4 separate regions of the Homo sapiens genome follow, and all the other regions are linked to region 3. The links come from fine-mapping of genetic effects on gene expression. A gene starts in region 3. Each other region holds a variant in brackets. All regions are shown on one strand. Distances are between the middles of the regions.

Region 1 (8,104 bases), 150 kb before region 3:
CTGCCAATTCTGGGGCTGTTTGTTACTGCAACATAACCTAGCTCATCCTGACTAACACAACACCTTTGATTTGAAGTAAGAATGACATGAAGAGCTGCTGTAACCCTGGCTTGCTGTTTGAACAGAGGAAACAAGAGAACAGCACTGAAGAGTAAATTAAAGGGTCTATAGAAAACTACCTGTCATCCTCAAGGTTGCCCTGCTTCCTCCTGCTGCCATGCTTTTGTGCACACACATCCCTTTACTCCAGATAGTCTTCCTTTTTCTCTGACTACGTGAATCCCTTCAAAATTCAACTCCAATGGCACCATATCTGAGAATATTTCTCTTCTCCACCACCCTAGGTAGTGTTGGCATCTGTCCTCTGCTGTCAGCAGGAATTGGGACTTCACACTGTAAACATGCTTATTCTCTCCCATAGCATTCACTCATCTGGGAAGACAGTACAGAGTGGTGGGCACAAGAGCAGGCTCTAGAGCAGTGCTTTTCAATCAGGGGCGATTCTCCCCATGGGGGACATTTGGCAATGTCTGGAGACATCTGGTTGTCACAAATGGGGGGAGGTGCTACTGACCAGAGATACTGCTAAACATCCTACAGTACACAGAGCAGCCCCACACAACTGAAAAGTATCTGTCCCTAAATGCCAACGATGAGAAACTCTAAGAATATCTTGGTTCATAGCCTGACTCTTCTATTACTATGATTTTAGACATGTCACTTAACTTCTCCTTCAATGACTACCACATAATAAAAGCATAATAGGTATTAGGTATTACAATCTGCCTCCTCTACTAAACTTCGAATCCCTAGAAGGTAGGAACTAAGCTATGCTTGTACATGTATCCCTACTGCCAGTACACCATGAACGTTTGTGAACTCCATGGGTAAAGCGTTAGTTCACTCTTTTCTGAAAGCTAGTTAGTCGCAGGTAGTAGATAAAACCCTCTACCTTGCACCAAAAAGACAAGGCCTGTGCGTGCATTCTCTTTAGCAAAACCTCTGCTGGTTTTAATAGAAAGTATTTATTCTAGTTCATTGCGAAGCACAAATGCAAGTATAGTAACTCTGACCCAGAAGATTTAAGAAACCAGAAGATCAACACACACAACCATCCTGGAAGAATGTAAGTTCACGGAAATTAAATTTTATAACAATGATGCCATCTGGAGAAGTAACTTGAATCAAAATGAACTAACTACTCACCAATGGCCATAATATATTTTATGTATTCAAATAAACCAAACACAAATATCAGATTGAGTCAGGAATGTAACAAGAGGTTTTTGTATAGCAATATTTTGTTTTATTTTTCCCATTCAACGTCAATTTTCTAGGTATTACAAGTTTTCTTTCTTTATTAAACCAAGTCATTTGAAACCTTCAAAACGTGCAAGATTTCCTGATTCACACTGTAATACTCTATTGCTTTTATTTTTATGTATTTATTTTTGAGATGAAGTCTCGCTCTGTCGCCCAGACTGGAGTGCAGTGACAAGATCTCGGCTCACTGAAACCTCCGCCTCCCAGGTTCAAGTGATTCTCTTGCCTTAGCCTCCTGAGTAGCTAGGACTACAGGTGCCCGTCATAATGCCCGGCTAATTTTTGTATTTTTAGTAGAGATGAGGTTTTGCCAAGTTGGCCAGGCTGGTCTCAAACTCCTGACCTCAGGCAATCTGCCCACCTCGGCCTCCCAAAGTGCTGGCACTACAGGCGTGAGCCACCGCACCTGGCCCTCTATTGCTTTTACATGCCATTTTCTGAGCTTATAACATGTTCATACACTTCTAACCAGACGACTTAAAGTAGTGTGGTTGATGTGGAAAATACTAAGAAATCCCAAGTTGTGGCATGCAGTAAAAATGCGTAAGAATAGTTTTGTATATCTCATATAAACCCAAATCATCTTCTGTCAAAAATTGCTCTACCCAGAGAATTTCTGTTCTTCCCATACTCTAAAAAGAGATTCTGTGGCTCTAAAATCTTTTTCTTTATTTTTTTCTAAAAATCTTCTCTTTTTATTTTCTTTTTAAAATGTTTTTATTTTATTTGAAGTTCTAGGATAAATATGCAGGATGTGCAGTTTTGTTACATAGGTAAACAAGTGCCATGGTGGTTTGCTGCACCTATAACCCATCACCTAGGTATTAAGTCCCACATGCATTAGCTATTTATCCTGATGCTTTCCCTACCTCCACCCGCAAAAGGCCTCAGTGTGTGTTGTACTCAAAGTTTTTTTTAAAAAATCTGTTGAACAACTGCAACCAGCATCAAACCTAGGTTTTCAAAACGTACCAAAACGGAAAAATATTCTGAACCAAACCATCATTTGATTCAGTTCCAACTTTGGTCTTGAGCCCAATCAAATAACCACTGAAACATGCTGGACAATTCTAGTGGGCCACGGGGACTGGGTGGAAAGCCTGTGGTCATCTGTCTCCATGAGATGATTTCCATTCCCCAGGCTCAGGGAATACATGGGAAAATCCTCTGCCCATTTTCCAAAAATCCTTTAAGCCCATATAGAAAACAATACTTTCTTTGTGATAGATTGTTTATACAAATTCACCAAAGGAGATTTTGCAAATATTATATAGACTTCATCATACCGAGGGAGAAATAACCATGCCTTTTAGTTTCTTCTGATTCACTGAAATGAGGACTAAGATGCTTTATTTCACACACTACCGGGTTCATGTATATCACCGGGCAGAAAAACAAACATAAATACCTTCTTAAGCAGATGACATCTTCCCCTGTTTCTCGATGGAGACCAAATCCTCCCGCAGGTACTCAAACTAGTAGCAATCCCATTAACTCTCAAGACTACTTTCTGCTGCCCCCTCCTGAGACAGGAGTTAAAAGATGGCAAGGACATGGGCAAGTGGCCTAGGGTGCAAGGTGAAATCTAGTGCTAGCTTTAAAGAGAAAATTCCTTCCATCTCTGTGGTTATGAGTAGTTCTAAATTACATACCCCATGTTTCTTTTTTGGCTTAATTACAATAAAAAGGGGAAGCATCTCTGGGACCTTCAGCATGACTATGTTGCAAAACTAAACCCAAAGCACAGGCCCAGGCTGCAGAGAGACAAAGGGAAGCACCAGTGGCGGAAAGGAAGCCTCACCCAGAGTGGGGCCTGGTCCTCAGCCACCATCTCGGAGGCGCCCAGAGGGAGGTGGCAAGGAGACACTCTGCATCTGCTTCTTTGTTTTTCTTTTTATTTCCAGGCCCCAACAATCAATAAACAACTTTCCTTAAATAATACAGCACCTGTGAGTCAGCCTGGGTAAGCTCCTGTGGAGACGGAGCTGGGAGGTGATGGCATGTGGGCAGGGGCCGCCGTCCGGGCCTCCTACACACCACAGCTCCCACCGGGCTGCCCGCCAAGGGGCATGACTCTATCCTGGAGTCAGAGGACACTGGGAGCAGGAAGCGACCTCAGAGATGACCAAACACCTTCACCTGAAGCCCTGAGAGGCAAAGCCCAAACAGGAGGCCAAGGCTTTTGACACCCTGCCCGTTTTTATAGCACCTCTGTGGAATTGTTCATTTTCTAAGCCAGATCATTCCACAGAAGGAGACGGTAAATAAGCCAGTGAAAAAATTAACATCGCCAGCCATTAGAGAAAAGCAAGTTGGCCGGGCGTGGTAGCTCACGCCTGTAATCCCCAACACTTTGGGAGGCCGAGGCAGGCGGATCACAAGGTCAGAAATTCAAGACCAGCCTGGCCAACATAGTGAAACCTCGTCTCTACTAAAAATACAAAAATTAGCCAGGTGTGGTGGCGGGCACCTGTAGTCCCAGCTACTTGGGAGGCTGAGGCAGGAGAATCACTTGAAACCAGGAGGCGGAGCTTGCAGTGAGCCAAGATCGCACCACTGCACTCCAGCCTGAGCGACAGAGCAAGACTTCTCAAAAAAAAAAAAAAAAAGAGAAAAGCAAGTTAAAACTGCAATGAAGGCTGGCGTGGTGGCTCACTCCCATAATCTCAGCACTTTGGGAGGCCAGGAGACTTGAGACCAGCCTTGGCGACACAGCAAGACCCCATCTCTACAAAATAATTTTAAAATTAGCTGGGCATGGTGCTGCATACCTGTTGTCCTATAAATCGCTACTTGGGAGGCTAAGGCGGGAGGATCCCTTGAATCTAGGAAGTCAGGGCTGCAGTGAGCCATGATTGCCCCCTGCACCCCAACCCGGGCAAGCTACAGAACAAGACCCTGTCTCAAAAAAAACAAAACAAAACAAGACACAGAAAGAACCTACAATGAGATGGCCTTGCATACCTGCATACCTACCAGAGTGGCTAAAATAAAAGTAGCTACTTAGCTACTAAATAAAACGCTGGCAAGGATGTGGAGAAGCTGCAGCACTCATACACTGCTGTGGGATGTAAAATGGTGAAGCCACTCTGGAGAGCAGTGTGGCAGTTTCGTAAAATATGAAATGAATGTGCAACTACTGTACGACCCAGCAACTGCACTCCTGAGCATTTATCACAAATAAATGAAGGCTTACATCACACAAAAATGTGTACACGAATGTTCACAGCTGCTTTATTCAAAATAGCCAGACCTGGAAATGACACAGATGTCCCCTCCTAAAAAGTGAATCGGGGGCCGGCACGATGGCTCGTGCCTGTAATCTCAGCACTTTGGGAGGCCGAGGCAGGCAGATCACTTAGAGGCCAGGAGTTTGAGATCAGCCTGGGCAACATGGTGAAACCCCGTCTCTACTAAAAAACACAAAAAAAGTAGCCAGTTGTGGTGGCGTACGCCTGTAATCCCAGCTACTCGGGAGGCTGAGGCACTAGAATCACTTGAACCCAGGAGGCAGAGGTTCCAGTGAGCCAAGATCACACCACTGCCCTCCAGCCTGGGCAATAGAGC[G/A]GGACAAAACAAAACAAAAAATTGAATCTGAATCTCTGAGGGTAGCATAGCAGAGACTGAGGAATCCAACTTTGGTAAGGAATCCTGGTGGTCGCTCCCTGCTGACTTACCGTGCCCTGTGGTCGGTCACTTGCCGCCCCACATGGCCTTTACGATGGAGGCCACAGCCTCACTTGGTGACCGCAGCTGTGCTCCTTTCCAGGGAGGTGCCACACCCTTCACCTCTATCACCTATTGAGAATATCACCTATTGAAAGCCTGGGCATTCTGTGTCCTGGCCCCTTTAGGCCCTCACCCATGTCTCCTAATTTAAATGAGGATTTAACTTAATTTACCTGGAGGCAGGTAACTCAACTCGATTGCATTCAATTCCTGCTTAGGTGCTGACATTATAAGCCCACAACAGCTTGTACCTGTTGGACTCATGCGCAGGCCGTGCAGCTCCAGGCTGCCTGGGTGCTTCACAGTATAGCAGTACCTAGCAAGCCCCACGCAGCACAGAGGCCCACGATGCTCTCTCTGGGTGGCCTGAGGCATCTGGACACGTGCAGATCCATGCTCTGTATCTGCTGAAACCCTCTTTCCCGTGGGCAGATCTGCCCTTCTCCCTGTGGGAGGCAGGCTGAGTCCCTGGGGACCCGGATTACAGAGTGAGTGCCTTGGGGTGCTCCCCTTTTCTGCTATCAGGGGCTTATTGCCCTGCTATGTCTGCAGCAATGAGGAGCTTTAACCTTTTCCTGCCCTTTAGGGTTAAGAGTTCTCTTCCAGTTCATCAGCCTAAGGAGGCAGCTCCAGGAGCTCACTTTTGCTGCAGTTGCATCTATTACATCCCTTTTTTAAACAAAGGCCCATTCATTTATAAGGAAAAGAATCCACTCTTAGTTCCACCTCCTCAAGTAGAAAATTTTTAACTAGACTAAAACGGTACTCCAGGGGACCTATGTGAACACACTCTCTTTCCCCCGGGGTCCAGTATTTCCACGGCAACAACCAATCCTAATTCCCTCAGCCACCTCCCAGGGCTGTGGTTCAGAGGCCCCATTGCTCCACCCATCCACCTCTGCATTCAGTTCAGTTAGTCCCCAGTCCCCCTAAAGCACAAGGCCCAGAACTAAATTCAAAGCCACCTTCCTCTGTTCTCCAGGCGACAGCTGATGGGTGGCAGAGAGGACAGGGTAGGAACTTGGGAGATTCAGATGAGTTAAAATCCCAGTCCTGCCATTGATCAGCTGTGGGCTTGGGACTAACAATTTATATGTCTCATCCTCATCTCTAAAAGGAGGAAAATAATGAATGCCCTGCAAAAATTACATAAAGTATTTGACGGAACATGCCTGGCACATAATAGGCACTTCTGAAATCATTGCTGCTATTATTTTTATTATTATTGTGCATCCTAAGACTGTTTAGTATTTTTTACAGCCGTACCACCTGTTAATTCATATTGAACTGGTAGTAAAATTATAACTCCCAGTGAATTTCAAAAGAAATATTGGCCGGGCGCGGCCGGGCGTGGTGGCTCATGCCTATAATCCCAGCACTTTGGGAGGCCGAGACGGGCAGATCACGCGGTTCAAGATCAGCCTGGCCAAGATGCTGAAACCCCATCTCTACTAAAAACACAAAATTAGCCAGGCATGGTGGCACCTGTCTGTAATCCCAGCTACTCAGGAGGCTGAGGCAGAAGAATCGCTTGAACCCGGGCAGCAGAGGTTGCAATGAGCTGAGATCATGCCAGTGCACCCCAGCCTGGGCGACAGATCAAGACTCCATCTCAAAAAATAAAATAAAATATTGGCCGGGCGCAGTGGTTCACGCCTATAATCCCAGCACTTTGGGAGGCCGAGGTGGGTGGATCACCTGAGGTCGGGAGTTCGAGCCCAACCTGACCAACATGGAGAAACCCCGTCTCTACTAAAAAAAAAATACAAAATTAGCCAGGCGTGGTGGCACATGCCTGTAATCCCAGCTACTCAGGAGGCTGAGGCAGGAGAATCGCTTGAACCCAGGAGGCGGAGGTTGCAGTGAGTCAAGATCTCGCCATTGCACTCCAGCCTGGGCAACAAGAACAAAACTCTGTCTCAAAAAAAAAAAAAAAAAAAAAGAAATAAAAGAAATATTGATGAGCCAGGACTCCTCCATCCTATCCTTTGGGCAACTGACTTTTAAATACCTTTATGGGGAACTTATGTTCCCTTTTATGACATCTGGTCATGGGGTCATACTGAACTATTTTCTTTTTTTTTTGAGACGGGGTTTCGCTCTTATTGCACAGGCTGGAGTGCAGTGGTGCAATCTCAGCTCACTGCAACCTCTGCCTCCCAGGTTCAAGCAATTCTCCTGCCTCAGCCTCCCAAGTAGCTGGGATTACAGGCGTACGCCACCACGCCTGGCTAATATTTTGTATTTAGTAGAGACGGGGTTTCACCATGTTGGTCAGGGTGGTCTGGAACTCCTGACCTCAGGTGATCCACCTGCCTCAGCCTCCCAAAGTGCTGGGATTACAGGCGTGAGCCACCGCACCTGGCCTTTTTTTCTTTTCTTTTCTTTCTTTTTTTTTTTCTTGAGATGGAGTTTTGTTCTTGTGGCCCAGGCTGGAGTGCAGTGGCACAATCTGGGCTCATTGCAACTCCCGCCTCCCGGGTTCAAGCGATTCTCCTGCCTCAGCCTCAGGATTAGCTGGGATTACAGGCGCGCACCACCACACCCAGCTGATTTTGTATTTTTAGTAGATACGGGATTTCACCATGTTGGCCAGGCTGGAATCGAACTCCTGACCTCAGGTAATCCACCCACCTCAGCCTCTCAAAGTGCTGGGGTTATAGTCATGAGCCACCGCACCCAGCCATAAACTATTTTCTGAAGTTGCTCAAGTCTTCTTTGCAAAGTCAGTGTTCCCAAACTACAGTCAGAGGCCAGGCTCAAGGTTCCTAGCAACCTGCCACCTGGTACATTCAGGGCACTCGCCCTTCAAGCACAACATGGATCCTTGGGGCTCCTTGCCACTCCAACTCCTAGGAGACTCTCCTGCCTTCCCCTGGGAATGTGGTATTTGAGGCCAATGGTGACTGACCAGAAAATCTAGGCCAGTTCAAAATGCCAAAGACAGGATGCCAGGAAGGACCCAGAACCTGCAGGGCTCCGTTCAGCTTCTTGGGGTTAACCAGCAGTCTGCAGAGGCGGGAGACGGCTCGGCTCTCAGGAGAGAGCAGCT
Region 2 (8,104 bases), 24 kb after region 3:
CACACGGGATGGCCCCTGGCCTCGGGGTCAATGTGTAGAGATTTGGACTTACACATGCAGTCAACAAAGGCACATCAAGTCCCCATTTTGTGACAGGCACTGTGCTAGGCATTGGGGGACCCAGCAGGAAAGAAGACCACAGGGTCCCAGGCCTCATGGAGCTCACGGCCCTGTGATTGTGATGCCCTCGGTCTGTTGATGGCGGGGCTTAAATAGCCTGAATTTCTGGAGCTCTGGCGTCTGCAAGGTGGCCTGGGAAAGAGTTTATGGAACAGCTACAGAGTTCTAGGTACCTTCATGCAGTTGAGGATTCGAGCCCGTAGAGGAGAATCGCCTGCAGCGTGGCCCCACGGGAAAGCACATTCCAGGCGCATTCCGAGGATGAGCGGAGACCATGTATGGAAAGGTAGTGCCAGGACTGTCATGAGTGTCCCAGGGCTCGGGGGATTCACCCGTGAACTGTGAGGTCTTGGCTCTGATAGACCTGGTTCTTATGCTTTAGGAGGGGAGACAAACAGTAACAGAATAGACAAATGCAAGAGAGAGTGACTCTGGACCCCTCCCACAACGGCCTCCTAACAATGGAGCATGAGCAGATACCTGCAGGATGGAGGGTCCTGTGCAGGCTTTCTGGGACGCAGACTGGCCACCTCCCCCAGGCCCTGCAGGCAGCCACTGTTAGCACCGCCTGAGATGTGAACCTTTTCTCCTCCCCCAGCTGCCATGGTGTGGACGGTTGGCATGGCGAAGCTGGACCCCTCCTCTCAGGGTGCCCTCCAGCTCCCCTACGACCCGGAGATGGGTGAGTATCTTGGGGAGCTAACAGCCTCTCATCACTGGGGGGCAGCTCCCTACCTGCACCCAGCTCTGCTCGGCCTGGCTTCCCTGAGAGGCATGAGTTCAGGAGGGGCAGAGGGAAAGGTCCGTTGAAAACCAGCCGGACACATGCGGCTTGAAGATTCAGCAAGTGTTGGACCCTCGGTCCTCTGCCAGCCTCTGTTGCATCGTTCTGCTGGGCGTGGGTGGGTGGAGTGGGGGAAGCCCTGGTGTCAGGTGCTGGTGCTCAGGGGGACCCCTTCTTGGAGCTTTGTTCCCTGGTAACACTCTGACCAGCTGTTGTTTCTCTCTCTTGTTGTCCCCTCCTCACGGTGATGACGGACATCTTCTCTTCCTGGACACCCAGAAGAAGACTCCTATGACAGTTTTGGGGAGCCTTCATACCCCGAAGTCTTTGAGCCTCCCTTGACTGGCTACCCAGGGGAGGAGCTGGAGGAAGAGGAGGAAAGTAAGGTGCCCATGTTCACACGGCCTGCTTCAGCCTACGGCGGGAGCGGAGACAGAGGGTGGAGGCTCCCTGCAGCCTGGGTGGAGGAGGGCATGAGGGGAGGGGCCCCTTTTCCCATCAGAGGCATCTCTGTGAAAGTAGAAGATGCCTGCAGCGCTGGGGTCTTCTCAGCAGGCCCCATGTAGTTGTCCGGCATGTATTGAGTATGGGCCACGTGCCCGTGCTGTGCTGGGTGAGGCCCAGCCCTGGTGGGACCCACAGGCTAAGGAGACACGGGCAGTAATCACATAGACTGAGAAGCCAAGGACTATGAAGGGGGCCATGGGGTTGGGGAGGGGCGGCAGGAGAGCATGCCACGGGGCTTCTTGACCTGGTTGGCAGGGGTGAGAGAAAGTCAGCTGAGGAAGTAACTGCTGAGCTGAGCTCTGAAGGTTGAGTCACAGCAGTCACTAGAGGAGAGGAGCACAGGGTGGGGAGCATTTCCTGACAGACAGACTCAGGAATCAGAGGAAGCCGGGGCGGGATGCAGAGAGCAGAAGTGTGGGAGAGCCTTGCAAACAGGCCTGGAGACATGCGAAGATAGGAGTTCATCCTGGCGTCAGTACACGGTGCCTGCCTAACACCCAATGCCAGCCCACTGCTGCGTGCCAGGCAGCACCCTGGAGCAGGGAGATGCTGCACTGTCGTAACAGCCCCTGCCTTGAGAGGTGCCTTACGGGAGCAGCCTGGTGACAGTGGCTTGGCATACAGGACTCCAGTGACACGGGAGGGGCAAGCTAGGGAAAGATCACTCTGCGGTGGGTCTGGAAGGAGGAGCAGGTGCGCACCCTCCAGGCAGGCTTGGGGGAGGTATTTATTCCAAGGCCAACTGGTGTGCTGCAGACCAGGAGTTAGCACAGATCCCACGGGGCCCGCAGGACTGGCCTCCCTCCAGACACCAGCCACAAGCTCTAGAGGGTCTAGATGCCACTTGTGCTTCTGACCGGCTGCAAATTTAGGGCTCCCATGACCCCCTTAGGTTCAATAACTTGCTAGAATGACTCACAGAACTCAGGAAAGCACTACACTTAAAATTGCAGTTTGTTTTTTGTTGTCGTTTTGTTTTGGAGACAGGGTCTCGCTCTGTTGCCCAGGCTGGAGTGCAGTAGCACGATTGTGGCTCACTGCAACCTTGACTTCCTGGGCTCAAGTGATCCTCCCACCTTGGCCTCCTGAGTAGCTGGGATTACAGGCACGTGCTACCACACCTGGCTCATTTATATTTTTAGTAGAGACAAGGTTTTGACTTGTTGCCCGGGCTGGTTTCGAACTCCTGGGCTCAAGTGATCCACCTGCCTTGGCCTTCCAAAGTACTGGGATTATAGGTCTGAGCCACAGCACCCGGCCAAAATTAGTTTTATTATAAGAGATGCAACTCAGGACCAGCCAAATGAAGAGACAGTGAAGAAGTAATGCTGATGGATCACACCTGGTGGGGGAAGGAGGACAGCTGGGGCCAGGAGCAGGAGGGACACCTGCAGGGCTGGAAGGGCAGGGGAGGTGGGCCTCCATGGTTTGTGTTTATTGCATAACCATTTTTATTGTCTACAGTGAGCAAAGTTATCCTATAAACAAGTGTCAGGGACCATTGCACTAAAGAAAACAAACGAGAGCATTTTGGAAGCTCTAATTTCCTGATCAGTAATGGGTAGACTAATTCCCAGTTATATTTACCTGTTGTAAGGTGAAAGGTTCTTCAGAGGACCTCTGTCTTGGTGTTATATGGGCTTTTGAATGTACTGAAATTAAATTCCCTAAAAATCTGTGATTCAGACTTCATACTAAATTGTACAGCAGTGCCCAGCCCAAGGCCTTGCATTTCTATTTGTTGTTTTCTTTACTCTCTAAGTGCCCAACACTGGTTTTACCTGAGTTTCAGAACTGCCCGCTTTTCTCTGCCCAGGTTGTAAGTCACCCAGTCCACAGGTGTCCCCTGCTTTCCCACTGGCCACTGATTTGGGGAGGCAGCTGTCCATGTCCCCAGTCCACATCTTAGCTTCTAGAGGCCAGGTGGGGTGGGCTGGGCTGGGCAAGAGCAGCTGGGCCTTCTGGGCCAGAGTTTCTCTTCTTTTTCCATTCTGTGCACGCCTCTTCAGTACGGGTTACTGTCTCTCCTCACACAGGGGGCGTGAAGCTTGGCCTCGGGGACTTCATCTTCTACAGTGTGCTGGTGGGCAAGGCGGCTGCCACGGGCAGCGGGGACTGGAATACCACGCTGGCCTGCTTCGTGGCCATCCTCATTGTGAGTGGCTGGGGATGCGTCCA[G/A]CTGCCTCGTGGTGGGGGCCCCCAGGGTCCTCATTGTGGTGGGGGCAGGTCTCAGGATCCCTAGGGATTTTTCATTTCTTCTCTTCCCTCTGAGGGACAAGAGCAGGGAGCGGGGCTGGAAGGGTCAGCTTGAGACCAAGGCTCACAGGAGGTGTGCTCGCCCCTAGGTGGGCTCCAGCCTGTGGAGGACAGTGCAGGGGAGGGTGAGGAGTGTACCGGCCCCAGCGTGGCTGAGCACACAGCCTCCAGGCCGAGGACCCAGCTGACAGCTTTGCGCAGTGATGATACCCTCGAGGTGGTTGTGATGACATCAGATTTGCAGAAAAGAAAATTGCTTAAGGGCCTTGCCCATGGGCGCAAAGCTAGTGAGGACCATGTTTTCCCCCTCCTCCATGCCATTGGGACACCACAGGGTCTGAATCTGGGGCACTAGGGGTGGCCCCGTTACTGTGAACCACAGCAGTGAAATGTGGAGGCCCTGTAGTCAGTTAACGTGACCAGATACACATAATGGGGAGACGTCCTGCCGTGACTTCATCTCAGAGATTTCGCTGTCACGTTAGAGGAGGAGGAGCGTCTGAGCCGTGCGCTTGGCATCTGCCCCTTAGTGAAAACCCTGGGCATGGCATGATTAAGGTTGATGCTCCAGTGTCCAGAAGGTTTTCTTTTTGCCCACAAGTATATCAGGGATGGGATGGTGGACCCAGGCTCCTCCACCACCAGACTGCCTTACCTGAGCCCTGCTGGCCCCAAAGATATAGAAGGCACCCTGGTTCCCTGTGCTCACCTGGACCACTGCCTGCATCAGCTGGGTCAGGGGAGGATGGGCAGCCCCCACACCTGCTTCCCAGGGGCAGGTTGCCTGGCGGCTCTGATTCCCTTGGTGCCAGCTGCTGAGAACCTTACTGCCATTTCAGTTGAGCCCACCTAGCTCTCATATAAATACATGTTCCCTGAGGGCATCTTACCATCCCATGTGACCACTCCAGCCAGACAGGGGAGGCAGCACGGCCTCGGGGCACAGCACTGCTCCAGGAGTCAGGAGGCCTGCCTTCTGGTTCACTCACTAACAGGTGAGGTGATCTAATGGGGGTGAGAACTTCTGCCCTTAACACCTCAAGAGCTGTTGCAGGACCAGGGAAGATAATGGGGTGTCTAGCGCCGTTATCCGACTGGTCCTCGAACAAGCTCCTGTGCCCAGGGACTAGACCATGACTCACAGCTCCTGTCCACACCAGGGATCACCACGCTCACCCTCCCCTCCATGTCCTGCAGGGCTTGTGTCTGACCCTCCTGCTGCTTGCTGTGTTCAAGAAGGCGCTGCCCGCCCTCCCCATCTCCATCACGTTCGGGCTCATCTTTTACTTCTCCACGGACAACCTGGTGCGGCCGTTCATGGACACCCTGGCCTCCCATCAGCTCTACATCTGAGGGACATGGTGTGCCACAGGCTGCAAGCTGCAGGGAATTTTCATTGGATGCAGTTGTATAGTTTTACACTCTAGTGCCATATATTTTTAAGACTTTTCTTTCCTTAAAAAATAAAGTACGTGTTTACTTGGTGAGGAGGAGGCAGAACCAGCTCTTTGGTGCCAGCTGTTTCATCACCAGACTTTGGCTCCCGCTTTGGGGAGCGCCTCGCTTCACGGACAGGAAGCACAGCAGGTTTATCCAGATGAACTGAGAAGGTCAGATTAGGGCGGGGAGAAGAGCATCCGGCATGAGGGCTGAGATGCGCAAAGAGTGTGCTCGGGAGTGGCCCCTGGCACCTGGGTGCTCTGGCTGGAGAGGAAAAGCCAGTTCCCTACGAGGAGTGTTCCCAATGCTTTGTCCATGATGTCCTTGTTATTTTATTGCCTTTAGAAACTGAGTCCTGTTCTTGTTACGGCAGTCACACTGCTGGGAAGTGGCTTAATAGTAATATCAATAAATAGATGAGTCCTGTTAGAATCTTGGAGTTTGGTCCGTTGTAAATGTTGACCCCTCTCCCTGCATCTTGGGCACCCCTGGGATAACTTGTGCTGTGAGCCCAGGATGGAGGCAGTTTGCCCTGTTTGAAGGAACTTTTAATGATCTCGCCTCTCTGCACACATTTCTTTAACTAGAAAGTTTCCTAAGCAAAGGAGTTAGGAGAGCAGGGTGGCCTGACATCTGCCAGCCCTGAGCTGTAAGGCTGTGGATGCTGAGCAGGTCCCTGGACTCAGTTGTGCACGGTGGCACAGACACTGCCAGGTGGTTGCCAAAACATCCAGTGGTTCCTTCAGCAAGTGTTCACCCTCTGCAGAAGCCTGTGAGGGCCTGAGCTCAGAAACCACTCTCCTTTCCTTCTCTGGCTTTGGCCCTGGGCACTGTGGTGGGAGAGTGGACAGTTTGGCTTTGCCTTCTCTGTACATCAATCATGGGTTGCAAAGAGAATCTCAGAAGTGCCTCTTCCTGAGCACAGTGGCTCACACCTGTAATCCCAATACTTCGGGAGGTCGAGTCGGAAGGATCACTTGAGCCCAGGAGTTTGAGACCAGCCGGGGCAACATAGTGAGACTTTGTACAAAAAAAAATTTAAAAATTAGCCAAGCATGGTGGCATGCATCTGTAGTCTCAGCTACTCTGGAGGCTGAGGTGGGAGGATCACTTAAGCCCAGGAGGCTGAGGCTGCAATGAGCCGAGATCAAGCAGGTGTTAGGTATATCAGACAGCTGAGAAGACGCAAGTGTGCCCTGGGGTTCAAACTGGTACCCCTGTCTCCCTGTTCCAGGAATAACATGAGTGCCGGGACAATGCATCTTTATTATGAGAGGAATGAGAATTGTGTATCTTGACATTTGACAGGAGCTTGCTTTCCCCCAGGCTGTTTGAGGAAGGGCAGAGGAAAATGTGGTGCCCTAAGAAGGAAGGACAGAGGAGGCCGAACACTGGCGGGTGGAATCCCACTGATTAGTAGTGCAGGTCAGAGACCTGGGATGGGGGGCATTGCCGTCATGGAAGCCACAGCGGGGAGCGGGTAAAGCAGACAGGGATGGTCCCTGATGGTGACAACTCGCAAGAGGTTAAGGGGAAAGAAAAACTGAAAAGCTTATTCAATTTGGCAATTATGGCAGTGTTTATCTTCAGAAGAGCAGTTTTAGGGTGGGGTTTCCAAAGATGGGATTGGACATATATTTTGAATCATTAAGCTTGAGGTCTTTCAAAGGCCTGGCCAAGGGTTGCTGGGTGGAGACCACATTCAGAGGTAAAGGCAGAAATTGGGGGCCCTTAAGTAGACAGCGAGGGAGGAAGAAATGAAGGGGCCTGGTGATGGTTAGGGTGAAGTGTTAAGACTGAGAAAACAAGGACATGTGAGAAGACGAGGGAAGAGCATTGGAGAGAACAAAGACACTGGAGGAGATGCTACTTGGAGGTCCCCAGAGAGCAGGGAGACAAATGAACCCAGAACACAAATGGCAAAGAAGAAAAATGAGAGAATTTGTAAAAGACAGCATTCGAACATGCCGAACAAGAGCAGGGTACTGGTGTTCAAACACCTGTATCTCCCCCGTGTAACCCGTCAACTAATATCTTTCCATATTTGCTCCAGATTTGTCTTTAGAAATAAAACCCACGTTCTGAAGTCCTGTTTGTATGTGGCCCCAGTCCTGTTGCCTCCGCCTCCTGTCCTGAAGTCGATTTCTGCCCTTCTCATCTATGGTTAGTTTTGTTTTGTATGTTGGCATGTTTTCTTAACTTTACAGAAATGGTATCATACTGTACATATTTGATAATTTTTTAAAATATTGCATTCTGGAGGCATGTATAAATGTAGCTCCAGTTCATTTATTTTATTTATTTTTTGAGATGGAGTTTTGCTCTTGTCACCCAGGCTAGAGTGCAATGGCGTGATGTTGGCTCACTGCAACCTCTGCCTCCTGGGTTCAAGCAATTCTCCTGTCTCAATTTCCTGAGTAGCTGGGATTACAGTTGCCCGCCACCATGCCTGGCTAATTTTGTATTTTAGTAGAGACGGGGTTTCACCACGTTAGCCAGGCTGGTCTCAAACTCCTGACTGCAGGTGATCCACGCACCTTGGCCTCCAAAAGTGCTGGGATTACAGGCGTGAGCCACCGTGCCCAGCCCAGTTATTTTAACTATTGTATAGTGTTCCATTGTATGAGTTCTACTGTTTATATGCTATTGATCGACCTGTAGGGGTTTTGCAGTGTTTCTGTATTACAGCTGTGCTGCAGTGAGCATCCCATCACATTGTGTGGATTTGAGGAAGTATTGGAATTCCCCCAATTGACTGGACATTCCCAATTACCCTCCAAGTATGTGTCTGTTTATCCTTCCATCCGCAATCTGAGAGTTCCCCAACTCTATAATACTTGGTGTCATCAGACTTTTCATCTTGTCTGATTGGATGGGTGTCATTTCCTTTAGGTTTTATAATTATCTTTTCATATGTGTATTGGCTGTACAAGGTTCCTTCTCTGTTCATTATTATTAATTTTTTTAGACAGAGTCTCGCGCTGTCGCCCAGGCTGG
Region 3 (8,104 bases):
AGTGGCTCAATCTCGGCTCACTGCAAGCTCCGCCTCCCGGGTTCATGCCATTCTCCCGACTCAGCCTCCTGAGTAGCTGGGACTACAGGCGCCTGCCACCACACCCGGCTTTTTTTTTTTTTTTTTTAGTAGAGATGGGGTTTCACCGTGTTAGCCAGGATGGTCTCAATCTCCTGACCTCGTGATCTGCTGGTCTCAATCTCCTGACCTCGTGATCTGCCCGTCTCAGCCTCCCAAAGTGCTGGGATTACAGGCTTGAGCCATCGTGCCTGGCCTTACTGATTCAACCTCTTATTGGATTCAATCTCTTTACTTTTCCTAGCTTGTTCAGATTTATTTCTTCCTGAGTCAGTTTTGGTCATTTGTGTACAGTTGTTCACAGTATTCACTTAAAATGCTTTTTTTTTTTTTTCCTGTAAGGTCCATAGTGATGCCCCTACTTTCATGTCTGATTTTAGTTATTTGCATCTTTACTCTTTATTTCTCAGTCTAGCTAAAGATTTGTCAGTGTTGTTCATCTTTTCAAAATTTTCATTTCAGCTATTGTACTTTTCAGCTCCAGAATTTTGATTTGGTTTATTTTTCATAATTTGTCTCTTTGCTGATATTCTGTTTATACATTTATTGTTTACCTGGCTTCCTTTAGTTCTTTGTCCATGGTTTCCTTTAGTTAGTTAAGCATATTTAAGACCATTTAAATAAACGTTTAAGTAAACTTTTAAACATTTAAATAAAAGTCTTTGTCTAGCAAGTTCAATGTCTAGGCCTCCCCAGGGATGGTTTCTATCAATTTCTTTTTCCTGTGAATGGGTTGTACTTTTCTTTTTTCTTGGTATGCTTCCTATTTTATTTATTTATTTACTTTTTGGTTAAAAACTGGGCACTTCGGGCCTGGCATGGTGGCTCACGCCTGTAATCCCAGCACTTTGGGATGCCGAGGTGGGTGGGTCACAAGGTCAGGCATTCGAGACCATCCTGGCCAACATAATGAAACCCTGTCTCTACTAAAAATACAAAAAATTAGCTGGGTGTGGTGGTGGGTGCCTGTAATCCCAGCAACTCGGAAGGCTGAGGCAGGAGAATCGCTTGAACCTGGGAGGTGGAGGTTGCAGGCTGCTGAGATCGCGCCACTGCACTCCAGCCCTGGTGACAGTGGGAGTCTCTGTCTCAAAAAAAAAAAAAAAAACAAAAACTGGGCACTTCAACCTGAAAAAGCTGATTGAAAGAAAAAAAAACCTGGGCATTTTGAATATTATAATGTGGTAACTCTGGAAATCAGATCCTGTTAATGCTTATTAAGGGCTGCAGTCTTCTGTTTGTTTAGATCATGCCTTAGTCTTTCTGGCCACCAGCCCCTATCCTGAAGCTAGTCAGGGGTCCCCAGCCACCAGTCATTTCATTAGCATACCAACAACATTCATCACACCTGAGATTCCAAAGGTTTTAGAAGCTTGTGCCAGGAACGGGGATAAAGACCAAATATTTATTTTTATTATATCACAACTTCCTAACTCATTTATTGAGTCATTATGCTTCACCTTAGGGCATATGCAGCCTCTTCACATTAGGGGAAATTCAGCCTATCAAGTGCAACACTGAAAGCTAAATAACAACAACACAACAACAACCAATCAGGGATGGGCGCGGTGGCTCATGCCTGTAATCTAATCCCAGCACTTCAGGAGACCGAAGCGGGAGGGTCACTTCAGGTCAGGAATTCGAGACCACCCTGGTCAACATGGCAAAAACCCCCTCTCTACTAAAATTACAAAAATTAGCTGGGCAGGGTGGCACATACCTGTAATTCCAGCTAACTTGGGAGGCTGAGGCAAGAGAATCACTTGAACTTGGGAGGCAGAGGTTGCAGTGATCTGAGATCGTGCCACTGCACTCCAGCCTGGGCGAAAAAGCAAGACCCTGTTTCAAAACAACAACAACAACAAACCAGGTTGGGGAGTTATTTCCCAGGAATTCTGTAGCAAGGGCTCATATGCATCAGTTAGAGTTGGACTTTGTGACCTTCAGGTGTCCTTCCTTTTCCAAGAATCGATTATTTTTATAATTCTGTTAAATGTAATTAATTTCTCAAATTTATCAAAGATCATTATTTGGACCATTATTTTCTTAGCCAAAATGCTGGCCTGCCCCAGTTCCATCCAGGGTTAATCTGCATTTAAACAGCTCTTTGAAAATATTTGGTTTTCCCCATCCATCTATGGCCAATTGATTTTTGACAAGAAGCCAAGACAATTCAATAGGAAAAGGACAATCTCTTCAACGAATGGTGCTGGGACAACTAGAAGTCCACATGCAAAACAATGAACTTGGACCCTAACCTCACACTACATACAAAAATTATCTTAAAATGGATCAACAACCTAAATATAGGAGCTAAAACTATAAAACTCTTAGAAGAAAACACAGGAGTAAATCTTCACAACCTTGGATTTGACAATGATATCTCACACAGGACACCAAATGCACAAACAACAAAAGAAAAAACAGTTAAGCTGAAGTTCATCAAAATTAAAGTTTTATGTGCATGAAAGGACATCAGAAAGTGAAAAAGACAATTACAGAATGGGAGAGAAATATTTGCAAAGCATATATCTGATAAGGGTCTAGTGTCCAGAATATATAAAGAACTCTTACAACCCAACAACAAAAAGACAACCCAATTTTAAAATGGGCAAAGGACTTGAATAGGCATGTCTCCAAAGAAGATATACAGATGGCCAACAAACACATGAAAAGGAGAATGCTTAATAGCATTAGTTATTAGGAAAATGTAAACCAAAACCAGAATGAGGTACCGCTGCACACCTACTAGGATAACAATAAAATGGAAAATAACAAGTGTTGGTGAGGATGTGGAGAAATTGGGATCCTGTACATTGCTGGTAGGAATATAAAATGGTTCAGCCATCGTGGAAACCACTTGGGGTTCCCCAAATAGTTAAACACTGAAGGCTGGGCACGGTGGCTCATGCCTATAATCCAGCACTGTGGGAGGCCAAGGCAGGCAGATAACTTGAGTTCAGGATCAAGACCAGCCTGGCCAACATGGGGAAACCCCATCTCTACTAAAAATACAAAAATTAGCCAGATGTGGTGGCACACACCTGTAACTCCAGCTACTCAGGAGGCCGAGGCAAGATAATTGCTCGAACCTGGGAGGCAGAGGTTGCAGTGAGCCAAGATTGCGGCCACTGCACTCTAGGCTGGGCAACAGAGCAAGGCTCTGTCTCAAAAAAAAAAAAAAATTGAATTACCATGCGATCCAACAATTCAACCCCTATGTATGTACCCTCCCCAAATAAAAATGGGCTCTCAAACAAATACATGTACATGCATGTTCATGGTAGCATTATTCACAAAGCCAAAAGATGCAAACAGCCCCAATGTCCATAGATGAATAAACTGTGGCATACATGATACACACACACACACGCACACACATATACATATACACACACAAACACTATTCAGTCATAAAAAGGAATAAAGTCTGTTACATGCTACCTGAGGATGAACCTCGAAAACATGCTAAGTGAAAGACACAAAAGTCCACACACTGTGATTCCGTTTATATGAAGTATCTAAAGTAAGTAAATATAGAGACAGAAGTAGACTGGTAATTGCCAGGGGCTGGGGGGGAAGAGGGCATTGGGAAGAAACTTCTCAATGGGTATGGGGTTTTTCTTTCGGAATGAGGAAAATGTTTTGGAACTAGACAGAGGTGGTGGTTGCACAGCATTGTGAATTCACTAAATGCCACTGAAATGCCCACTTTAAAATGGTAAATTTTATGTTATGTGAATTTCACCTTAAGTTAAAAAAAAAAAAGTAAAACTACTCAGACAACGCCAAATTATTGACAATCTCAACCTACCCCACAGACCCCAAATCCTGGAACCACAACCCCCTAGGCCAATTCTCAGGTCAGGCAGCAATTTATTCCTGTTCAATTTTATGCAGAGCTCCTGGTGGCTCTGAAGCGCCCTAGGGAACAGACCAGGAACATTCTCATGGTGTTAGCTCACATTGGGCCATTAGTGCTCCTTTAATGTGAGAACAACCGGGAGGAGGAGGGGATGTGGACCCAAAACTACAAGAAAGAGTGTCCTCGAAGCCTATGTCCTACCGCCCCACGCTGCTGCCAGGCCCGCAGGAAGATGACAGGCCCGGCCTCCACTCCTTCTAAGGTCGTCGCTTAGTTCCGACGTCGGGATGACCCTGTCATCCACGCGGCGTGAAGGCCACCCTCCCCGCGCGCCCGGGACTCCAGGTGGGGCCCCAGTGGACGAGGGAACGCGGCGTCGCCCACCGGGCGTGGCCTGGGCGGGCGTGGGGCGGGGCCTGGGCCGGCGCCGGGTCCGGCCGGGCGCTCAGCCAGCTGCGTAAACTCCGCTGGAGCGCGGCGGCAGAGCAGGTGAGCGGGCGGTGCCGGGGGGTGCCCAGGCCAGGGCCCTGTCGCCTGCGGCGCTGAGGGCCCGGGGTGGGGCTGCGCCCTGAGGGCCCTGCCCTGCCCTCCGCACGCCTCTGGCCACGGTCCCTTCCCCGGCTGTGGGTCTGCGGCCCCTGCGTGCGCAGCGCTCCTGGCCTCTGCGGCCAGCGCGGGGGCGGAGAGAGGAGAGTGCCCGGCAGGCGGCGGCTGGGCCGGCCCGGAACTGGGTCGTGGAAGGATCGCGGGGAGCGGCCCTCAGGCCTTCGGCCTCACTGCGTCCCCACTTCCCTGCGCCCGCCTGCCGCCGAGCCCCGGCTGGGGGTGGGCGCGGCGCGAGCGGTTAAAGGGCCGGTGCATTTAAAGGAGCGGTGCACGTGGGTCTCTGAGGCGTGTAGCAGGCGGGGGCGTTTTGTTCTTCTTCTCTCTCGCCGGAGACCTCCGTTGCGCCGAGTCCATTCGGCCTCTAGCACCGGGTCCTGGGCATGCTTTCCCCGGGAAGGAGGCGCGCGGGGGCTCTGCCCGCACGTGAGGGGCAGGGCCGCAGGCTCAAGCCTAGAGCCGGTTTCTGTTAGCAGCGGTGTTTGGCTGTTTTATCAGGCATTTCCAGCAGTGAGGAGACAGCCAGAAGCAAGCTTTTGGAGCTGAAGGAACCTGAGACAGAAGCTAGTCCCCCCTCTGAATTTTACTGATGAAGAAACTGAGGCCACAGAGCTAAAGTGACTTTTCCCAAGGTCGCCCAGGTACGATATAGCAGAGCCAGGCTTCGACCCCAGTGTCCTGGCTTCTAGATCTGCTGTCCATCCCTCCGAGCAGACCTCACCCCTGTTTATTGCCTTAATAAGTATTCCCTTTGAAAGGTATGAACGGTGTTGAGTGAAGTAACTGCATCCCTATTTACAAATGGAGAACCTGAGAGCATTCCATAGAGACGATTGTAGACTAACTTAACTCAGAAGCGACAGCCTGGGGTTGCCAAGGCTGTCTACGAAGTAACTTGATTAGGACCGACCCCAGCTTCCAGTAAGGAAGCCTCTGATGCCTCTGTAGCCAATTCTGCAGACACCTGAGCCTCCAAGGCCTTCAGCCAAGACCTTTGGCGGTAATTGGAGTCTCGGGATAAGCTGCTTCAGGTGTGTGAGCCTCAGGTTCTTCTCTCCTGAATGTGGTTGTGGGCAGCCGGTGACTGGCGCAGGTGCAGAAGGGGCCTGGTTCTTGGCCCCACCTCAGAGCTGCGTCCTCACGACGCCCACGTTGAGCCTTGGGTTCCAGGGCAGAGACTGGAGTGAGGGCTTGGGGGCATGTTGCTTTGAAGTGGGATGGATGTATCAGGTTTTTGGGGAAAACTCTGTACCCTTTGGTGTTGAAGTGCCCATGTGCCAAGTCTTGAGTCCAGCATGTTCACATGTGGGGAGTGAGTGGCTTGTTCCTGTCTATTTGAAAGAGCAGCAAGGAGGAGGAGGAGCAAGGGCTAGGGGCTGCTGCTGGGGTGCCTGGAGCTGTGGTGCATAATGTCACACCTGTCTCCCCTCCGTAGCTGCTCACCGTCCCCCCAAGGGGGGTTTGCCTCTTGCCTACTTTGGCCTTTCTCTGTTATCGATGTTAATAATGACATATATCTCGCTTATGAGTTGGTCATAATAAAAAGCTATCTTGTACAGAATATTAGAATTTAAGATCTTAAGAATTTCAATGACACTGAAATAGTTTATTATTACCTTTTTACAGAAGAGGAAACAAGTTCAGGGAGTTAAGCAGCTAGTCCAGTTATGTGGCTTCAGTGCTTTAAGCACCAGGATTTGAACATAGCTGGCTACACTGTCTTTATCTCTTGAGTTTTTGCGCAGGAGGTTCCTGTATTCAACTCCTACCCGTGTCTCTCCACTACTGCTGGGAAAGTTTTGTGGAGTCCCCATGAGCAACTTCCTGACAAACAAACAAAATTTTTTTAAAGAAACCAAAGCAGTGTGTGTAGGTCACATGCAGTGTGTCTAATGAAAACATCTCTGGCGGGTTTTCAGCTGTTGCTTTGACTTTCGGACACTGTTTAGTTGGGGACTGATAAGACAGCAAATATTTCTGCAAGTATTCCCACCTGTTCTATTCCCAGCTGCCACAGCTGCGGAAAGGCGGGGGTGAGGCTGAGAGGCCCCGAGAGGAACATTTTCCACTGGGCTCCAATCCTGGAGATGGGATGACCATCATGTTAATGTCTGGAGAAAAGAATGATTTCAGGCTGGGTGCTGTGGCTCATGTCTGTAATCCCAGCACTTTGGGAGGCCGAGGTGGGTGGATCACCTGAGGTCGGAAGTTTGAGACCAGCCTGACCAACATGGAGAAACCCCATCTTTACTAAAAATACAAAATTAGCCGGGCGTGGTGGCACATGCCTGTAATCCCAGCTACTCAGGAGGCTGAGGCAGGAGAATCGCTTGAACCCAGGAGGCGGAGGTTGCAGTGAGCCGAGATCGGGCCATGGCACTCCAGCCTGGGCAACAAGAGCAAAACTCCATCTCAAAAAAAAAAAAATGGTTTCACATCAGTCCTCAGGAAAGATCAGATGTCAGTGAGGGAGATCATTTCTTGAGAGCCTCTTCACTGAGTGGGAGAATGGGCTGCTTGTTCATCTTTGTGAAAATTCTAGAACGGGAAGAACAATTCAAAGGGTGTCCACCATTCTGCTGTACCTTAACCAGAAACTTACTGGACTCTTTTTAAAATAAAAGTAATTCATGTTTATTCTAGAAAATTAGGGAAAAAAAATTTTTTTTGAGATGGAGTTTCACTCTTGTTGCCCAGGCTGGAGTGCGATGGTATGATCTCAGCTAACTGCAACCTCTGCTTGCCGGGTTCTAGCGACTCTCCTGCCTCAGCCTCCTGGGTAGCTGGGATTACAGGTGCCTGCCACCACTCCCAGCTAATTTTTGTATTTTTATTAGAGGCGGGGTTTCACCATGTTGGCCAGGCTGGTCTCAAACTCCTGACCTCAGGTGATCCGCCAACCTTGGCCTCCCAAAATGCTGGTATTACAAGCATAAGCCATTGCGCTGGGCTGAGATAACCACTCTTAACATGCATTTCCTTCCACACTGTTCACATATGCATATTTATCTATTAAAACAATAGAGGGAGGGAACCGTAGGTGAAGTTTGTGTATCCTGTTTTTTCTGTTATGCCTTCAGAATTTTCCTTTTATTGAGTACTCATGGAAAAGCAGATTTGATGGCTGTGTAGAGCATTTGAATTATTTATCCTACCAGTCCCACAGCAGGACACTTTCCCACCCTCCCTTTTGCCCCAGAGAAGCAGTGCCCTCTGTCCTCCCCATGCCCATATGTGGGCACTCCCCACCATGGAGCCAAACCTACCTGGGCAAGTAGCAGAGGGAGAGCAGAGTGAGCCCTGGGGGCAGGAGAGAGACTTGAGAGTTTTGAGGTGACAGATGAGCTGGTGAGTGAGTGATTAGGGAGCATTTCTTGACACATACCTGCCCGTGGTGAAGGCATGTGTCTTGTGAGTGTGCTCCCAGAAAGCCTGTGTAGTGTGTGGTGGGCCTGCCTGTGTGACCAAACCCTGGCCACTGGGTACGTGACCCTCACAAGTGCTGACTGGGCTGAGAAGAGCTCCTTGATGGGCAGTTTGGAGACTTGAGTTGTAACT
Region 4 (8,104 bases), 44 kb before region 3:
GAGATGGTGCAGCTGGAGTGTACTGGCTTCCTACTGCTGATGTAACAACTTATCACAAACTCAGTAGCTTAAAACAGCACAAATTTATTCTCTTGTAGTTCTGGAGGTCAGAATTTTAAAATCAGTTTTGCTAGGCCAAATCCAAGGTGTGGGCAAGCTGGCATTCCTTCTGGAGGTTCTAGGAGAATGTTTCCTTGTCTTTTCATCTCCTTGGGGCCTTCTGCATTCCTTGGCTCCTGGCCCCTTCCTTGCATGGCCCCTCTTGTTTCAGTCATCACATCTCCTATTACTCTCTCAGATCCTCCTGCCTCCCTCTTATAAGGACCCTTGAGATTACATTGGCCCCACCCAGATAATTCAGGATGAGCCCCCTCACCTCAAGGTCTTTGACTCAATCACACCTGCACAGTCCCCTATATGGTAACATGGTCACAGGTTCCAGAGATTCAGGGTGTGGACATATTCGGGGTCATTATTCAGCCTGCCCTGGTGTGTCTCTAAGGAAGGCCAGCTGGCTGTCTACACAAAGGCCCTGAGACCAGAGTTCCTCTGGTGAGTTTACCAGAGTCTGGGCTTCATCCTTGCCAGTATCTCAGACTTGGAGATGTTAGCTTGGAACCACTAGATACCGGCGACATTGTCGGATAAACTGGAATTCCAATGAATTCATTTATTCCTTTTTATCAGGCACTATTCCTTTCCAGAAGGGTCTGCCTGGTGTTTGAACACCTGTGTGGCCAAATGAACAATCAGAATGCTGTTCGGTGAACATGAACATGAACATGAACTTGGCGGTGGGTGTTGCCAAGGGGTGTTTCACCCAGGTAGCAGGGAAGACAGTGAGCCATCCTGACTGACAACAGAACTCACCTTTCTACAGGCCAGATTCTGCATTTTTCCCTAAGCAGAGCTGGATACAACTCCCAAACTCTAGCTTTTTCCCTCTTGTACCATGAGCCAGGATCCTAGAATCATCCTCAATTCCTCCCTCACACTCCACATTCAATCCAACACCAAGTGCCATCTTTTCTTCCTAAGTATCTCCCATATTCAACCACAGCTTAAAATCTCCTCTCCCACACCCTACTCCAAGCCGTCTCACCTGGATCACTGTAACAGCCTCCAAATGGGCCTTCCCGCCCCTACTTTTGGTCCCCTCTGTCAAATTCTCTACCCAGCAGCCAGACTGAGCTTTAATCTAATCATGTCACTTCCTCATTTAAAGCTCTTCAATGGCTTTACAGTACCATTAGGGTAAAGCCTCCTGTGTTAGTTCAGATCCTCCCAGAAGCAGACACAGAGTACAGTGGCGCAATCTCGGCTCACTGCAACCTCTGCCTCCTGGGTTCAAGTGATTCTCCTGCCTTAGCCTCCTCAGTAGCTGGGACTACAGGTGTGTGCCACCACGCCTGCATGCAAGGGTTTTTTCTGGGGAAATTGTGACAGAAATGTGGAAGGGAGCTGCAGGAGTCTGGGAGACCCATCCAGTGTGATGTGAGTCTGGCCCCACAGGAAGGGGAAGGTGAGAGTGGAGGGTAGACGTAGTCTGCCGACCCTGAAGTCTAAGGAAAGTTCAGCAAACCACCATGGAATCCTTGAGCCAAAGCTAGCGACAAAGGATTTCTGTCCCTAGGGGAAGCCTGGCTTTGGTGTGAGTGGCAGGAGCCCCTGGTCAATTTTGCTGCCCAGAGTTAGAGGTCTACAAGGTGCGTTCCCCTGGCCACCATGCTCCCAATCCTCATCTCATCTCTGGCCCACCTCTTCCGTTCCTGCTGTGCCAACCCAACTTACTCTTTCCCATATGTGAGTCTTTGTAAAGGCTGTTTGCTGTGCCCGAATTACTCATCTTCTCACCTCCCCTGTCCCCTTTCCCTTCCCCCAACTCACTGATACTTCAGCTGAAACATCACTTCCTCCAGGAGACTACCCCATCCGTCTCCCACGTGCTCCCACAGCCTGGATCCTTCTCCATCCACATTCCTCATCTCCTGTGTTTAATGCCTAACTCCATCCTCAGATGTGAGACTTTAGCAGGCAGGAACTGTGACTATTTTATCCACTGCCATATCCCCAAAGCCTGGCATATAATAAGTGCTCAGTAAAATATTCATTGTTGAGCCAGCAAGGTCACCTGAGTCTGGCAGATGCAAGGAAAGAATGTCACAGTTTTGAGAGTAGTCAACCATGGAGGCTCGGAAAAGGGAAGCATGGAGGCAAACTGGCAGAGTCCATCCAGGCATTAGCAGTCGGTTGAGCTCAACATCATGAACGCTGATTTGTGCCATAGAGCATCTACTATGTGCTAGGTGCTGGTAGCTAACCAATGAATAGAACCTCTTAAAGTGTAATATGGCACGGGTACGACTAGCTGGGGCCATGGTCGCAGGTGGTAAAGGAATTTACCAAGACAGTTGTAGGTAAAGAAAGGCGGATTATAAGAGGAAGTATGAAAATACCTTGCAACGTTGCAATGGGCAGCACAGCAGAGAAGCGTCTGTCTGCCAAGAGGTGGGGGCCTGGAGGGAAATTTTACAGGGCCGTGCTGGAGGGGGCTATGTGCTGAATGAGGACATTGTGCCCCCAGAACAGGCCATTGTTTGTGATTCTGATTTGTGTTTCTCAGAATGATTGTTCATTGTTCTTCCCCACCTGGGGCCCCTTCCTCTTGTTGCTTACTTATCTAATCAGGACTTCACCTAAGGAATTGTGTAGTCAGTCTAGGGGAGAGACAATGCTGTCAGCCTACTAAAAACCAACTCTTCCAGCAGGTGTATGTGCACCTATTGTTAAAGGTGATGGCAATAATATGTAACTGATATTACAACAGTTGGTCTGATGTGGCAAAGACACTGACAAATTTGAACAGATGCCAGTCATTAATAACTGGTGTAGCCATGGGGAAGATTCCAGCTGAGTATTGGCTGACTGAATGCAGGCAGAGAGCCGTGCCATTTCCACTGGAATCTACCTCTTGCCATACTTGTTCTGACCCATGACCACCAAGGAAAGCCCCCGGCGCCCTGCCCCTGCCTGTTTGGTTGGTCATGCGGACACAAATATCTGATCTTATTTCTCATTTTAAGTGATGGCTTTATGCATCATTCTCTTGTGAGCTTCTTGAGTCCCCGCACCACAGAGCCATGGACAAAATAGAGTTTCTCGGCATGCAAGACCAAGGTCTGAAACCTGGGCCCTGGTACCTACCTTCTTTAGGGCCAGGCCAACTTGTGAGCCCCCTTCCTACAACCCCAGACCTCTCTGTGCTGACAGACAGCTCTCTTTGATGGCTGCCATTGGCACTGGGGAGTTGATACTTGAATGGGGGCGGGTGGGGTGGCCTCTCAGACTGTAGGCTCGGGAGTAGCCCTTCCAAGAGGCTGACCCTGATAGTTGAGTCAAACTGGTGACAGAATTGATGTGAGAGCTTGACAGCAGACCTAGGGCAGATAGCTAGGGGCTGCTAACCAGAGACTTAGTAATTAGCATGCAAATTGAGCAAGAAGGTGATCAAAGCTGGGAAGTGGAGGAAATTAGATGTCTGCTTCTGCCGGCATTCTCATACACGCTGAAGAGGCAGTAGTTTGTCCAGCTGTGTGTCTTAAAGATACCATCTGTGTCAGTCTCAGAGGTGCCAGGAGCCCCTCTCCCAATTACCTGTCATCTCTGCATCAAATTCTCCAAAGTGGATTTTGTTGTGGTTGTTGTTGTTGTTGTTTTGAGATGGAGTCTCGCTCTGTCGCCGAGGCTGGAGTGCAATGGTGCGGTCTCGGCTCACTGCAACTTCCGCCTCCCGGGTTCAAGTGATTCTCCTGCCTCAGTCTCCCAAGTAGCTGGGATTACAGGCGCCCGCCACCGTGCCTGGCTAATTTTTGTATTTTTAGTAGAGACAGGGTTTCACCATCTTGGCCAGGCTGGTCTTGAACTCCTGACCTCGTGATCCACCCGCCTCACCCTCCCAAAGTGCTGGGATTACAGGCGTGAGACACTGCGCCCGGCCTCCAAAGTGGATTTTTGCTCAATATGTTCTATTCCCAGCTGTCTCAGACATGGGTGGGGTAATGACTGATTCCTAAATCCGTTGACCTCAGCTTTTTTTTTGACACAGGGTTTCCCTCTGTCGCCCAGGCTGGAGTGCAGTGGTGCAATCACATCTCACTGCAGCCTCAACCTCCTGGGCTCAAGCAATTCTCCCAGCTCAGCCTCCTGAATAGCTGGATCTGCAGGCCCGCACCACCATGCGTAGCTACATTATTTATTTATTTTGTAGAGATGGGGTCTCCCTATGTTGCTCAGGCTGGTCTCATACTCCTGGGCTCAAGCGATCCTCCCGCCTCGGGCTCCCAAAATGCTGGGATTTACAGGCATGAGCCGCCAGGCCCGGTGACCTCAGCTTTTACCCAGCACCATCAAAGCAGGACGCACTGCACAAACCTGAACATTAGCTGTTGTCTAGCTGCCGGAGTATGCCTGGGGAACAGTCACAGTTGTTGCAGCTACACAGCATGTGTGCGTTTGTGAGTCTGGAGTTGGAGTTGAGTGAGACCCTGATACTAGGGAAAGAGACGGAAAGCCAGACTCTTACTTAAGGGCTTCTATCGCAGGAGGGAAGATTTCTTCCAAGAGCTCAGTGCAATAAATGAAAGAAATTTAGAAGGCTGCCAGGCTCAGGGCAGCC[C/A]CGGAGCATCAGAAGTAGGAGGCTGAGGGTCGGGAATGGGGAGCAGGGGTTAGAACTGAGGAAGCAGGGGTTAGAACTGAGGGGTTGCTGAAGACACCACCACGTTTCAGAACTCAGGATAGGGCCTGCCTGGGGACTCGCACAGAGGAGAAGGAACCGGTAGTCTAAAATACTAAAACGTGTGGAATTCCTGCATGGAGGCTTCCTACTGGGAGTGTAAAATTTCTGTGAGAACTGTAAGAAGTAAGCAAACAGCATCAGAGGACATGAGCCCCGTGGAAAGTGCCTCAAAGTGTGGTTTGAGGATTACCCGCCTGAGACTCCAAAGAGGTGTTTGCCAAAAAAGGCAGATTCTTGGGCCACACCCGGCTCTATGGAGTGGGAAGCGCTGAGGGTGGGGCCTGGGCGCCTGCTCTCAGAACTGGTGCCGCTGAAAGCTTGCAGAGCCCAAACGCTGCGAGGAGGTCGCACCAGCAAGTGAGGAAGCAGAAGGGATGGCTTCCTGCGCCTCCCACACAATTTTCAACTTTTCAGGAAGTACCATAGGAGAAGTCAAGGTAGATGAATACGTTTTTCTTTGGTCCCTAGCATTTTTCTTTTAAAATTTTATTTTCCTTTTGAAAAAGAATGTGAGAACAAAGTCTGAGAACGAATGTGAGAACGAATCTCGAAACGTGAGAAAAAGGCCTTCTTCCCCCCCTCCACCTCCCCTGCGTGGTCCTTGGGTGCTCTGTGAACGGTGACCCCACCCTCACAGGGACCCTGACTCCTGAGGGGTCACCACTCATATCCTGTGAGAGACTACGCTATTCCCTGATTCAGCGGGGTCTCCAGGTCTGAACGCCCAAGGCCAACACAGAGGCCTAAAAATAGAGCCCGGGAGGCCCAGTCAAACCGGAAGAGAGCCAGAGGCCTCCCTGGAGTCCCGAAGACGATCTGAACCAAGGAGCCCAGCGCCCTCTAGCGGGAGACAAGCTGCTTCGCGGCCCTGGTCTCCGGTCAGAGGCACTGGGCTGGGGCTGAGCACTCCGAGGCGGAAACCAAAGGGTGTGCCCCTGGGGACACCGCCTCAAGACCCCTGACTGAGGCTCCAAAAGGAAAAATTGTGCCACTTGTGTTTTACGAACTTCAACGTAATTGTAGGATACATTGCTGTAATGTATAATGTTGTAATAATGATTACCTTCTATAACCACAGATTTTTATATTTATTTATTTATTTATTTTTGAGACAGAGTCTTGATCTGCCACCCAGTCTGGAGTGCAGTGGCACGATCTCAGCTCACTGCAACCTCCGCCTCCCGGGTTCAAGCAATTCTCTGCCTCAGCCTCCTGAGTAGCTGGAATTACAGGCGCCTGCCACCATGCCCAGCTAATTTTTGTATTTTTTGTAGAGACGGAGTTTCACCATCTTGGCCAGGCTGCTCTTGAATTCCTGACCTCGTGATCCACCCGCCTCGGCCTCCCAAAGTGCTGAGATTACAGGCGTCAGCCACCGCGCCTGGCCGACTTTTATTTCTTTACTTATTTACTTATTTATTTATTTTCTGAGATGGGGTCTTGCTCTGTCGCCCAGGCTGGAGTGCAATGGCGTGATCTCAGCTCACTGCAACCTCTGCCTACTGGGTTCAAGTGATTCTCCTGCCTCAGCCTCCCCAGTAGCTGGGATTACAGGCACGCACCACCATGCCCGGCTAATTTTTGTATTTTTATTAGAGATAGGATTTCACCATGTTGGCCAGGCTGGTCTCAAACTCTTGACCTCAGGTGATCCACCCTCCTTGGCCTTCCAAAGTGCTGAGATTACAGGCGTGAGCCACTGCCCCTGGCCTAGCATCACAGACTTTAGACCCTTTTCATTACTTCTCAGTGAGACCAAGGTTCCTATCACTAAATTCACATGCACATAACATATAACCTGGAAGGGTACCCAAGCACCTCCGACAGCTGCACCAAGATTCCATCTGGGAAAGCTGTTCTCTGGGGGAACATACAACTTTGGGATGGGTGCTCAGGAGCCTTAATAGCAGAAAAGGACCCCTTGCAAGTCAGAAAATTTGGCTGAATCATTCCAGGCACTCTCTGAGGGGGCAGATGTCTCTGCTGGCTAATTGTTCCCCCACCTGAAGACATCAACTCAGTTTTCCCTAAGTCAGAGAGAAAACATACTCCTACTGTACATATTTCGAGAAAGGAAATATACAGCTGAACACTGAAGTGCCCAGTTAGGCTTTGAAGAAAAGGATTGTGGCCGAAAGACACCAGGCTTTTAATAAAAGCTAAAAAGCAAAAGTGTATACCACCTCACACCCATGCGGATGGTGACTATTAAAAAACTAAAGAAAGAAAGAAAATAAGTGTTGGTGAGGATGGAGAAATTGGAACTCTTGTCCTCTGTTAATGGAAACGTAGAATGGTACAGCTGCTGTGGAAAGCAGTATGTCAGTTCCTCAAAAAATTAAAAATGGAATGACCATTCAATTCGGCAATTCCACTTCTTTTTCTTTTTTTTTTTTTTTTGAGACGGAGTCTCGCTTTGTTGCCCAGGCTGGAGTGCAGTGGCACAATCTTGGCTCACTGCAACCTCTGCCTACCAGGTTCAAACGATTCCCCTGCTTCAGCCTCCTGAGTAGCTGGGATTACAGGCACCTGCCACCACGCCCGGCTAATTTTTGTATTTTAGTAGAGACGGGGTTTCACCATGTTGGCAAGGCTGGTCTCAAACTCCTGACCTCATGTGATCCGCCTGCCTCGGCCTCCCAAAGCACTGGGATTACAGGCGTGAGCCACTGCGCCCGGCCCCAATTCCACTTCTGAGTGTGTAACTACAAAAATTGAAAGCACAGTCTCAAAGAGATAGCTGCACACCTTTGTTCATAGCAGCATCATTCCGAATAGCCAAAAGGTGGGGGCAACACAAATGTCCCTCAACAGAACAACAGATCACCAAAATGTGGTGTATACCCACAAAGGAATATGATTTGCCCTTTAAAAGGATGGAAATTGAGCCGGGCATGGTGGCTCATGCCTGTAATCCCAGCACTTTGGGAGGCTGAGGTGGGTGGATCCCTGAGGTCAGGAGTTCGAGACCAGCCTGGCCAACATAGTGAAACCTTGTCTCTACTAAAAATACAAAAATTTAGCTGGGCATGGTGGCGGCGCCTGTAATCCCAGCTACTCAGGAGGCTGAGGCAGGAGAATCGCTTGAATCTGGGAGGCGGAGGTTACGGTGAGCCGAGATCATGCCATTGCACTCCAGCCTGGGCGACAAGAGCAAAACTCTGTCTCAAAAAAAAAAAAAAGATGGAAATTCTGCTGGCACGGTGACTCACATCTGTAATCCCAACACTTTGGGAGGCCAAGGTGAATGGATCATGAGGTCAGGAGTTCAAGACCAGCCTGCCTAACATGGTGAAAGCCCGTCTCTAC

Direction of the effects. Alleles are on the strand shown, and positions count from the first base shown. SD is a standard deviation of normalised expression in the study named. Not every link is listed here.
With allele G in place of A in region 2, the expression in gastroesophageal junction of the gene that starts at base 4,399 in region 3 is higher (moderate effect, 0.45 SD a copy in GTEx).

Evidence for each region. PIP is the estimated chance that this variant, and not a neighbour inherited with it, causes the effect.
Region 1: its variant is fine-mapped to the expression of PSEN2 in whole blood (TOPMed, PIP 0.95).
Region 2: its variant is fine-mapped to the expression of PSEN2 in gastroesophageal junction (GTEx, PIP 0.92).
Region 4: its variant is fine-mapped to the expression of PSEN2 in whole blood (TOPMed, PIP 0.95).

Annotation. Positions count from the first base shown.
Region 1 is chr1:226,714,376-226,722,479 of GRCh38, forward strand. The region is part of intron 2 of ITPKB (inositol-trisphosphate 3-kinase B); the gene reads right to left. Among named protein-coding and RNA genes, the nearest start is that of ITPKB, 21 kb to the right of the region's middle. RefSeq lists an enhancer at 3,317-3,816. The variant G/A (reference allele first, on the strand shown) is at 4,891.
Region 2 is chr1:226,890,560-226,898,663 of GRCh38, forward strand. PSEN2 (presenilin 2) reads left to right here. Exons shown (of 13, transcript NM_000447.3): 10 at 719-802; 11 at 1,184-1,285; 12 at 3,448-3,566; 13 at 4,865-5,539. The coding sequence ends at 5,020. Among named protein-coding and RNA genes, the nearest start is that of PSEN2, 24 kb to the left of the region's middle. RefSeq lists a silencer at 5,335-5,566. The variant G/A (reference allele first, on the strand shown) is at 3,590.
Region 3 is chr1:226,866,218-226,874,321 of GRCh38, forward strand. It overlaps PSEN2 (presenilin 2), which reads left to right and starts at 4,399. Exons shown (of 13, transcript NM_000447.3): 1 at 4,399-4,432; 2 at 5,045-5,187. LOC105373119 (a long non-coding RNA gene) reads right to left here and starts at 4,333. Exons shown (of 3, transcript XR_949226.4): 1 at 4,145-4,333. RefSeq lists silencers at 4,202-4,801, 4,812-4,861.
Region 4 is chr1:226,822,614-226,830,717 of GRCh38, forward strand. It overlaps LOC124904530 (a long non-coding RNA gene), which reads left to right and starts at 5,087. Exons shown (of 2, transcript XR_007066909.1): 1 at 5,087-5,232. RefSeq lists enhancers at 2,496-2,635, 5,475-5,769. The variant C/A (reference allele first, on the strand shown) is at 4,676.